Regions from separate parts of the Homo sapiens genome. Here region 1 is linked to region 2. The links come from fine-mapping of genetic effects on gene expression. A gene starts in region 2. The other region holds a variant in brackets. All regions are shown on one strand. Distances are from middle to middle. Region 1 has its middle 4.6 kb from the start of HPX. Region 2 holds the start of APBB1 (amyloid beta precursor protein binding family B member 1).

Region 1 (4,392 bases), 26 kb after region 2:
GGGCAGGAGTTGAAAGTAGAACATTGTACACATTTGGGAACCCAGGGCTGTGGATATGTTGGCCACCCTGGTGTTGGTCACAGGGTACAAGCCAAGACTTCTCAGGGTAGTCAAGACTCAGCAGCCTTGCTTCTCTTCCCCTCACTACAGGAGGCCCCTTCTGTGGGTCCTGGGTCCTTCCCAGGCTTCCTACTGGGGCTGAGGAAAGAAGCTTGTCGGTACTTGGGCCTGAGCACCCCCTGCAGGCCGCAGGAATCAGTGCACTCCCGCCCTTCAACTAGAGGCCAGAGCCCAGGAGTTTTTCCTCTCTGAAACTAGCTCTCCACAGCCTTTGTCCCACACTCCTCTCAGCCCTGGCTGTGCATCCTTAGTGGTACACACCCTTCTATGCTTCTTTCCCTTCTTCTGCAAACCTTGCTGCCCAGAGTGGATTTGGGGACCTCAATCTCTTGCTTCTCTGGGAACTCGAGCCCAGAGAAATTCAACCATCTCTTTTCCTGGGTAGTCTTCTCTATCCTCCTAACCAGCAGCTTTTTTACTTCTCCCAGAAGGGGTCTGAACACGAACCTGCAAATGTCTGCAAATGACAGAGCTTCCTCCTGCATTGCCAAGAGCCAGATGTAAGCTGGACACTGACCCACTGTCCCTTGGAATGGCTATGTCTATGTCCAGCCTGCTCTGCTGTTGATATGAGTTCTCTGACCTTAGCCATTTCTCCTGGGCCCACTGAGTGCTAGGTGTGCTGGGCCTGAAGTCTGTGGCTGTATACTCCAGGGAGCAGGAACTGAATGTCTCCTTTCCTCAGGGGTAGGAGGCTTAGGGATAAAGCTCCAGGCAGCCAAAGAGCTTGCTGATCCCAGCTGACCCCTCCTCTTGCTCAGTCTATAATGGGCCTTAGTGCTATATATATATATATATAGCATGTATATAGCACTTGCTATGGTTTGAATGTTTCTGTCCCCTCCGAATTGATGTGTTGGAAGCTTAATTCCCAATGTGCCAGTGTTTGGAGGTGCGGCCTCATGAGAGGTGTTTAGGTCATGAGAGCTCTGCCCGATGAATGGATTAATGCTGCTATAAAAAGGGCTTTCAGAAGTGGATTCTCTCTCCTCTGCTTTTCTGCCACGTGATGAACAGCATTTGTCTCCTCTAGAGGATGCAGCGTTCAAAATGCCATCATAGAAGCAGAGACCAGGACCTCACCACACACCAAACCTGCTGGGCACCTTAATCTTGGACTTCCCAGCCTCCAGAACTGTGAGAAATACATTTTTGTTCATTATAAATCATCAGTCATGGGCATTTTGTTATAGCAGCACAAACAGACAAAGGTAGCACTATGAGTCCCGTTTTATGAATGAGGAAGCCAATATTAGGTATCTTAGCCAAATCACATTGCTAGCAAGTGGCAGAGCCATGATTTAAACCCTGGGTGCCTGACTCCTAGGGGTGTGTTCCTACAAGGATAGTGTGTTCTTATCAAGGGGTTCGCTGGCAAATATTTAACAACTGCTCTCTAGGGGGAAAAAGCACTGATTTGTAACATTTGCAGATTTTTGTGATATAAATACTCCTACCATGGCCAACTTTAAGCTACCGACAAGACATCACCAAATGTAGAGTTGGGAAGGGATGTACAGTAACACACTGCATACAATATTCCTACCATACAGATATGATAGATATAAATAATCACAAGAGCACAGGGGATAGTAAAATGTAGTAAAATAATTAGGAAGTGATTACTTTTAAGTACTGATTATCTTTGGTTTTAATAGAATGTATTTAAGTTTATATAGTTTGATTTTTAATAATAGCTGTGTTTTAACAACCAGCTCTCAAAATTCTAAATTTGACAATCAGCTCTCATGAGCCAGCTCCAGCACCCCACAGTCTACCATGCTGCCTTTGTGTACAGGACAAGGATCCTACCTGCTTTAGTCACTGCTATATCTTCAGCACTGAGAACACGCCTGAAATACTGTATGTATTTAATAAATATTGAATCCTATTATTCCTACTTCCTAATTATACATAAAATCTGTCCATTTCTCTCTGCCTCTTTAGTAATGCAAACACCACCTTTTCTTGTGTGACCATTGAAATAGCTCCTCTACAACACATTCTTTATAACAACCACAGTGATCTTTAAAAACGTATCTGAGATCACCTTATGCTCCTGCTTAAAATTTTTTCTTGAAGTCAGTTGTAATTTTTTTTTTTTTTCTTTTTTTTTTGAGACAGAGTCTCACTCTGTCACCCAGGCTGGAGTGCAGTGGCGCGATCTCGGCTCACTGCAACCTCCGTCTCCTGGGTTCAAGTGATTCTCCTGCCTCAGCCTCTCGATTAGCTGGGACTACAGGCGCCTGCCACCACACCTGGCTCATTTTTTGCATTTTTAGTAGAAACAGGGTTTCACCGTGTTAGCCAGGATGGTCTTAATCTCCTGACCTTGTGATCTGTCCACCTTGGCCTCCCAAATGCTGGGATTACAGGCGGGAGCCACTGCACCTGG[C/T]CGAAGTCAGTTGTAATTCTAATGTATACACAGTCTTCAAGAGGAACAGTTTAGAGAAGTTGAATTGTTTTCTGATTTTCTTTCTCAATTCTCTTCCTACCCCACAGAATCACTGCCCAGTTTAAAGTTTGTTTCACAGGGCATCCCTTTCATCCTTATCACTTAAACTTTTCAGTGGCTTACTGTCATACTCCAGACCAAATCCAAGCTCTTTATCTTAGTTAAATGATCGAAGTCAGGCCTAATTCTCCAAACTTGTTCCTTTCCTCTCTCCTTCCACCCTCCTTCCTCTCCAGTCACCCTGGCCTCCTTTCAGATTCTCAAACACATCAAGATCTCAACCCCTCAGGATGTTTGTACCTGTTTTTCCTTTGTCTGAAAATCTCTATCTCCTTTTCTTAACACAGCTAGTTCCCTACCCACCCTGCTCCAACCCTACAGGTCACTGCTTAAAGAGACTTTCCTTGTCCACTCTATTTAACACTATATTGTCTATCATTGTATTCTGTTCATTTCCTTCACAGCTTGAACTCAAATTGTTATTACACATTTAGTTCCTTGTTGCTTACTTGTCTCCCTTCTCCACTAGACTATAAGCTTAATAAGGGCAGGGACCATTTCTCTGTATTCCCAGGGCCCATTACTCTGTCTAATATTAAGTGCTCAACAAATACTTGTTCAATAAATAAATGAACCCGCAGACCACAAATGGCCATAGGGCTGTTCTGGTCACCAGACAGCCCTATATGAGCAAAGTGTGAACCCTTGCAGGACCACAAAATAACATTCTGACAGCAGGGGCTTTGCTGTGACCCCCAAATCTGTGACAATCATTCCAGACTTGGCCTCCACTGTCAGGCACTACTTTCATCTACTTGGCCCCAAGGCCTGAATTGGAAAGAAAATGCCCACCACGGCTGGATTTAGAAGGAACAGAATGACTCCACCTTGATGTACCTTTTCCATGGCATGGGAAGACTACCTAATCTGAATCTATGGAAATCAGCCCTAGCAGCCTGTTCTTGGGCTAGCAGAAGAGCCATTTGCAGCATCCCGCCCAAGGAAGGTCACCCTTACTGCCTTTTTATTCCCCTGCTACTTTTAGGTGTTCACAATGTAAACATGTGACAGGTTGAGGGCTGGAAGCTTTGAGTTTCCATTCTGTATTACTTCTGGTGCCTTGCTCAAGATAGGGGTGCAGAAAAATAGACCATCACCTGAGAGTTCTCGGGGAGGACTCCACTGGTGCTGAGCGACTGATAATTGAGCACACCATCTCGGCTGACCAGGGCATGGGCTTAGGCAATTCCACTCACAATCAGAGCCAGAGGGGCAGGCTCCATAAGAGCACCTGCACTAAAATCTTCAGGGAGCTCATCGGTCCCTCCACCTATCTATCAGGTTTCTTTTTTTTTTTTTTTTTTTTGAGATGGAGTTTTGCTCTTGTTGCCCAGGCTGGAGTGCAGTGGCACAGTCTCGGCTCACTGCAACCTGTGCCTCCCAGGTTCAAGCAATTCTCCCGCCTCAGCCTCTCAAGTAGCTGGGATTATAGGCACCCACCACGATGCCTGGCTAATACTTGTATTTTTAGTAGAGACAGGGTTTCACCATGTTGGCCAGGCTGGTCGCAAACTCCTGACCTCAGGTGATCCACCCACCTCGGCCTCCCAAAGTGCTGGGATTACAGGCGTGAGCCACTGTGCCTGGCCTATCTGTCAGGTTTCAGCTAGTGGGGCAGAGAGGACCAGGGAGGTAAGCATAACCAAGACTTTCCATATAGTCCAAGTGGGACCCCCTTGTTCTCTACAAAGCCCCCATGGTCTTCCACAGATCCATGGATAGTCCCTCTTTTCCTAGCCCCAGAATTGTGCTATACC
Region 2 (4,392 bases):
TTTGCATGTGATTTCCATGCTTCCTGGGACCTCTTCTCCTACTCTCTAAGCTGAATTAACTTCTACTCATCCACTATATTTTAGTTCAAACGTCATGTTCTCAGAGAAGCTGTCCTCCAACCCTCTCTCCCTATCCCCGAGACCAGTTTAGCTACTGCTCTTGTGCGTTCTCAAGGCACCATACAGCTTTTCTTCATGGTACATATTACATTTGTAATGTTATTCTTATTTGATTTTTCTCCTAGATTGTCAGCTCCAAGGACTCAGTCTCTTTTGCTCACAATTATATCTTCAGGACATAACACAGTGCCTGGCATATATTAGGTGCTGAAATCATATTTATTGCATGAATAAGTGATTGGAAGCATTTTTCAAAGGATTACTCTGGGTACTGTGTTGAGAACAGTTAAAGGGAGGTAGGCAAGAGGGTATGCTATTAAAGTAGTCAAGGAAAAAAAATGGTGGTGGCCCAGATTAACTTTGGTGGCAGTGAGGAAAGAGCGAAATGAATGGATTTGAGAAATATTTAGGCAGTGGATGTGACAGAACTTGGTGAAATGAGATGCAGAGAGTGAGAGAGGGGTTAATCTCAAGTCTTGCTCATGACTCCAGATTGGCAAAGAGCCATTTTTGAGATTCGAAGGAAGAACAGATTTGGAAGTGGGGTACAGAGAAAACCACAGAAGATAATTTAGCTTGGAATCTATAGGTTTGGAACTCCTGTTTGTCTTTCAAGGAGATGTCAAGAGAGCAGCTGGACATATGAGTCTGGATTTCAGGAAAGAAGTCTGGGCTGGATATATAAATTTGGGAATCATTAGCATATATATGAAATTTGAAGCTTTGGGAGTAGATAAAATATCTGGGGAGAAAGAACAGATACTGAGAGAAGACAGCTCGGGACAGAGCCAAGAGCCTCACCAGCATCTAAAGAGAGGAGGAGAGGAAGCAAATGAGATTGAGAAGAGCAGACAATGCTGTAGGGCAGAAAGCAGGAAAATGCTTCAAGGAGAGTGAGTTGACATACCCCACCGAATACTACTCAAAGGTAAAGGAGATAACAGTGTCCACTGGAGTTCTCCACAAGGAGGTCTCCGGTGACCTTGGCCTAGACAGTTTCAGTGGGTGTCAGGGACACAGAGTGGAGTGCTTTTAAGAATGAATGGGAAGTAAGGAAATGAAGACAGCAAGCGTTGACTCTGAAGGGCGGAGAGAGCTGGGACTATAGCTAGAGGGGCTCAGAATGCAAGAGATACACAGGCCGATACAAAACAGGTTAGGAATTGGCAGTGGGAAAACTGCTTCTAATCAGTGTTCTTGGCAGTGCTAGGCCTCCTGGCTGAGCTGGGGACACAGCCGCCCCAGGGCACACCCCTCGGTCGCTGAGGGCAACAGAATGCGGCTTGACAGATCCAGGGCCTGGGACCCCTGCTGGAATCGGCGCGGCCTGCCAGCCCACCCCACCCCACGTCCCCTTCCCGGACCTGGGCCTCCCCTCCCCCAACACCCACTGCCCCTCGCTTCGCGTCCTCCATACCCGCCCCTAGTCACCCCGAGGGGCAGGAGGTAAAGGGCAGCGGAAGGGACGGTGTGAGGGCCCGAGTGGACCCTGCGATGGTGGGTATGAGAGGACGGTCTGCGGGCGCGCGGTGGAAGGGCGACCCGGGGATGGGGGATGGGGCCGGCCGGGGGACCCGGGCTGCCGCAGGGTAGGGGCTACAGGGTCCGCCGGCCGCTGGTGATCGGGACGCAGCCACCGGGGCTGGGCCGGGGCAGGGACACCTCCTACCTGCGCGGTGAGGCCCCGGGCCCAGATGACGGAGGTGGCTCAGGCTGCGGGGTTCGGGCTCCGCCGCGGCTTCTCCATCACAACATCCCCCGCCCAGGAGCGCGCGGGCCGCGGGGCCGCGCCCCGAGCGGCGGAGGCGCGCGCAAGGGGAGGGGGAGGGGCGCCATCTTGGGGCGGGCGCGGGAGCGAGCTCGGCGGGCGCGGCACTTGCCGCAGCTTCTTGGGGGCCTCACCCTGCGGGCGGCCCTCGGACCTCGGTGAGCCCCGCGGTCCAGCCCTCCCAGCAGACACCCCTGCAGCCGACTCCCTGGGACCCCCGCCTAGCGCGGCGCCGTCCTCCACTACTATTCCACAGACTCACCCTGCGCGCCCCGCAGCGCCCTGGTCCCGCACCCACGCCGGGAGACGCGCGGACGGGGCTGGAGCCCGAATGGCGGCGGCTGTGCGGCGCCGCGGCCGCGCGGGGAAGGATTCCCGGGAGGCACTCTGCGCCGCTCCTGCTGCACCGCTCCCTGACGTCCTGGTGGGGAGGCTCTGAGGACACAGCGTTGCTCATAATAATAGCTCGTATTTATTGACCACTTACACCGTGCCGGGCTCTCTATTAAACCGTTAACGCGCATTAATCTTCACATCAGCTCTGTAAAATCACCAGAATTATTATCCTCATTTTTCAGAGGCTGAGGCTAAGATTAAGAGAGGTAAAGCGACTTGCCCGCAGTCACAGTTAGTGATGAATTTAGACTGGAACTCCGATGTTTCTTGACACTGAAATACCTCTGCTGCTGAGCATAAAGCTGACATCAAGGCCTGGAAAATGTCAAGAATACATTGCTCCCCGGTAGAAATTCACAAGGAAGGGGATATTGTGAATGAAAAGTGTAAAGATGTAAGGAAGATGGTGGGGTGCAATACTTACTACAGACCCTCCCTGGATAGTGGGATACATCCCAATGGTCAGATCAGTGACCCAGAGGCCATCAAGGATAATGAGAGGTTATATTACCATCCAGAAAGCCTCTACATGCTAATCCCTCTCAGGTGCCTAAAACTAAAGATATCCAAATCTGAGTTCGTTCTTTCTTTCAAGGCAGGGTCTCACTCTGTCACCCAGGGGCAAGATCATGGCTCTCTGAAGCCTCAGCCTCCAGGGCTCAGATTCCTCCCGCCTCAGCCCCCGGAGTACCTGGGCCACAGACATGTGCCACCGCGCCTGGCTTTTTGTATTTTAGTAGAGAGGGGGTCTCACTGTGTTCCCCAGGCTGGTCTGGAACTCCTGTGTTCAAGCGATCCTCCCACCTCGGCCTCCCAAAGTGCTGAGATTACAGGCGTCAGACACAGTGTCCAGCCTCAATTTATTGTTTCATCCCCCTTTATTAGTCTTTTAAGGAGTTTCACTGGGGTGAAAAAGAACCCTCTTCAACACACACAACACAACACACATCCCACACTGGACACAACTCCATTCCATCCATTCCAATGAATGACACCAACTACTGGCTTCCCAAGCCAGAAGCTTCAAAGTCATCTTTGAATATACTTTTATTTTACTTGTGGTAAATATAAATGTTTTAACTTTTTATTATGGCAAATTTCCAATATATACTAAAGCAGACAGAACAATATAATGAACCCTCATATACCTATCATTCAGTTTCAACAATTATGAATTCACAACCAATAGTTTATAATGATTTGACAAATGCCTATGATATATGAACCATGTATCAGGTCCCAAGCCAGGCCCTAGGGATCTAAAGACGAATCAGATTTGACTGCATCTCACCTGGAGGAAATGACATCTGACCTGGGTTCTTGAAAGATGAAGAAGAATTACCCAGAAGAACAAAAGTGTCCTCATTCATTCATTCATTCATTTTCTTTCATCAAATAATTACTATGTATGAGGTACTGTCCTTGGTGCTAGCAACAGGTCAAGAAACAAGATACAGTTCCGTCTCTCATACAGCTTGAAATTTAACAGGGGAAAGAGACATTAAATATGTAATTAGGAATGTGATGAGTGTCTTGAAGGAGATGTACCGGGAGCTATGTGAGTGGGCTTAATTTGGCCTGGGAAGTTTAGGAGGCTTTCATAGGAAGTGACAATTCAGTGAGGGAAAGGGATGAAGGAGCTAGAGGTCAGCCAGGAGAAGAGAAAAGTATTCCAAGTAGCAGGAGAAATACAGGAAGGTCAGTATGGGTGTTGATATAGTTTGGATATTTGTCCCTGATCAAATCTCATGTTGAATTGTAATCCCCAATGCTGGAGGTGGGGTCTGGTGGGAGGTGTTCAGGTCGTAGGGGTGGATCTCTCATGGCTTGGTGCTGTCTTCCCCATGATGAGTGAGTTCTTGTGAGATCCGGTTATTTAAAAGTGTGTGGCATGGCCAGGCGTGGTGGCTCAGGCCTGTAATCCCAGCACTTTGGGAGGCCAAGGTGGGCAGATCAACTTGAGACCAGGAGTTCGAGAACAGCCTGGTCCACATGGTGAAATCCCATCTCTATTAAAAACACAAAAAAATTAGCTGGGCATGGTGGCGGGCACCTGTAGTCCCAGCTACTTGGAAGGCTGAGGCAGGAGAATTACTTGAACCCAGGAG

The links. PIP is the estimated chance that this variant, and not a neighbour inherited with it, causes the effect.
Region 1: its variant is the best candidate, but not a certain one, in a credible set for the expression of APBB1 in whole blood (TOPMed, PIP 0.78).

The regions. Positions count from the first base shown.
Region 1 is chr11:6,443,357-6,447,748 of GRCh38, forward strand. No RefSeq gene overlaps it. Among named protein-coding and RNA genes, the nearest start is that of HPX, 4.6 kb to the left of the region's middle. RefSeq lists an enhancer at 1-68. The variant C/T (reference allele first, on the strand shown) is at 2,516.
Region 2 is chr11:6,417,196-6,421,587 of GRCh38, forward strand. APBB1 (amyloid beta precursor protein binding family B member 1) reads right to left here and starts at 1,899. Exons shown (of 15, transcript NM_001164.5): 1 at 1,790-1,899. RefSeq lists silencers at 1,667-1,856, 1,867-2,266.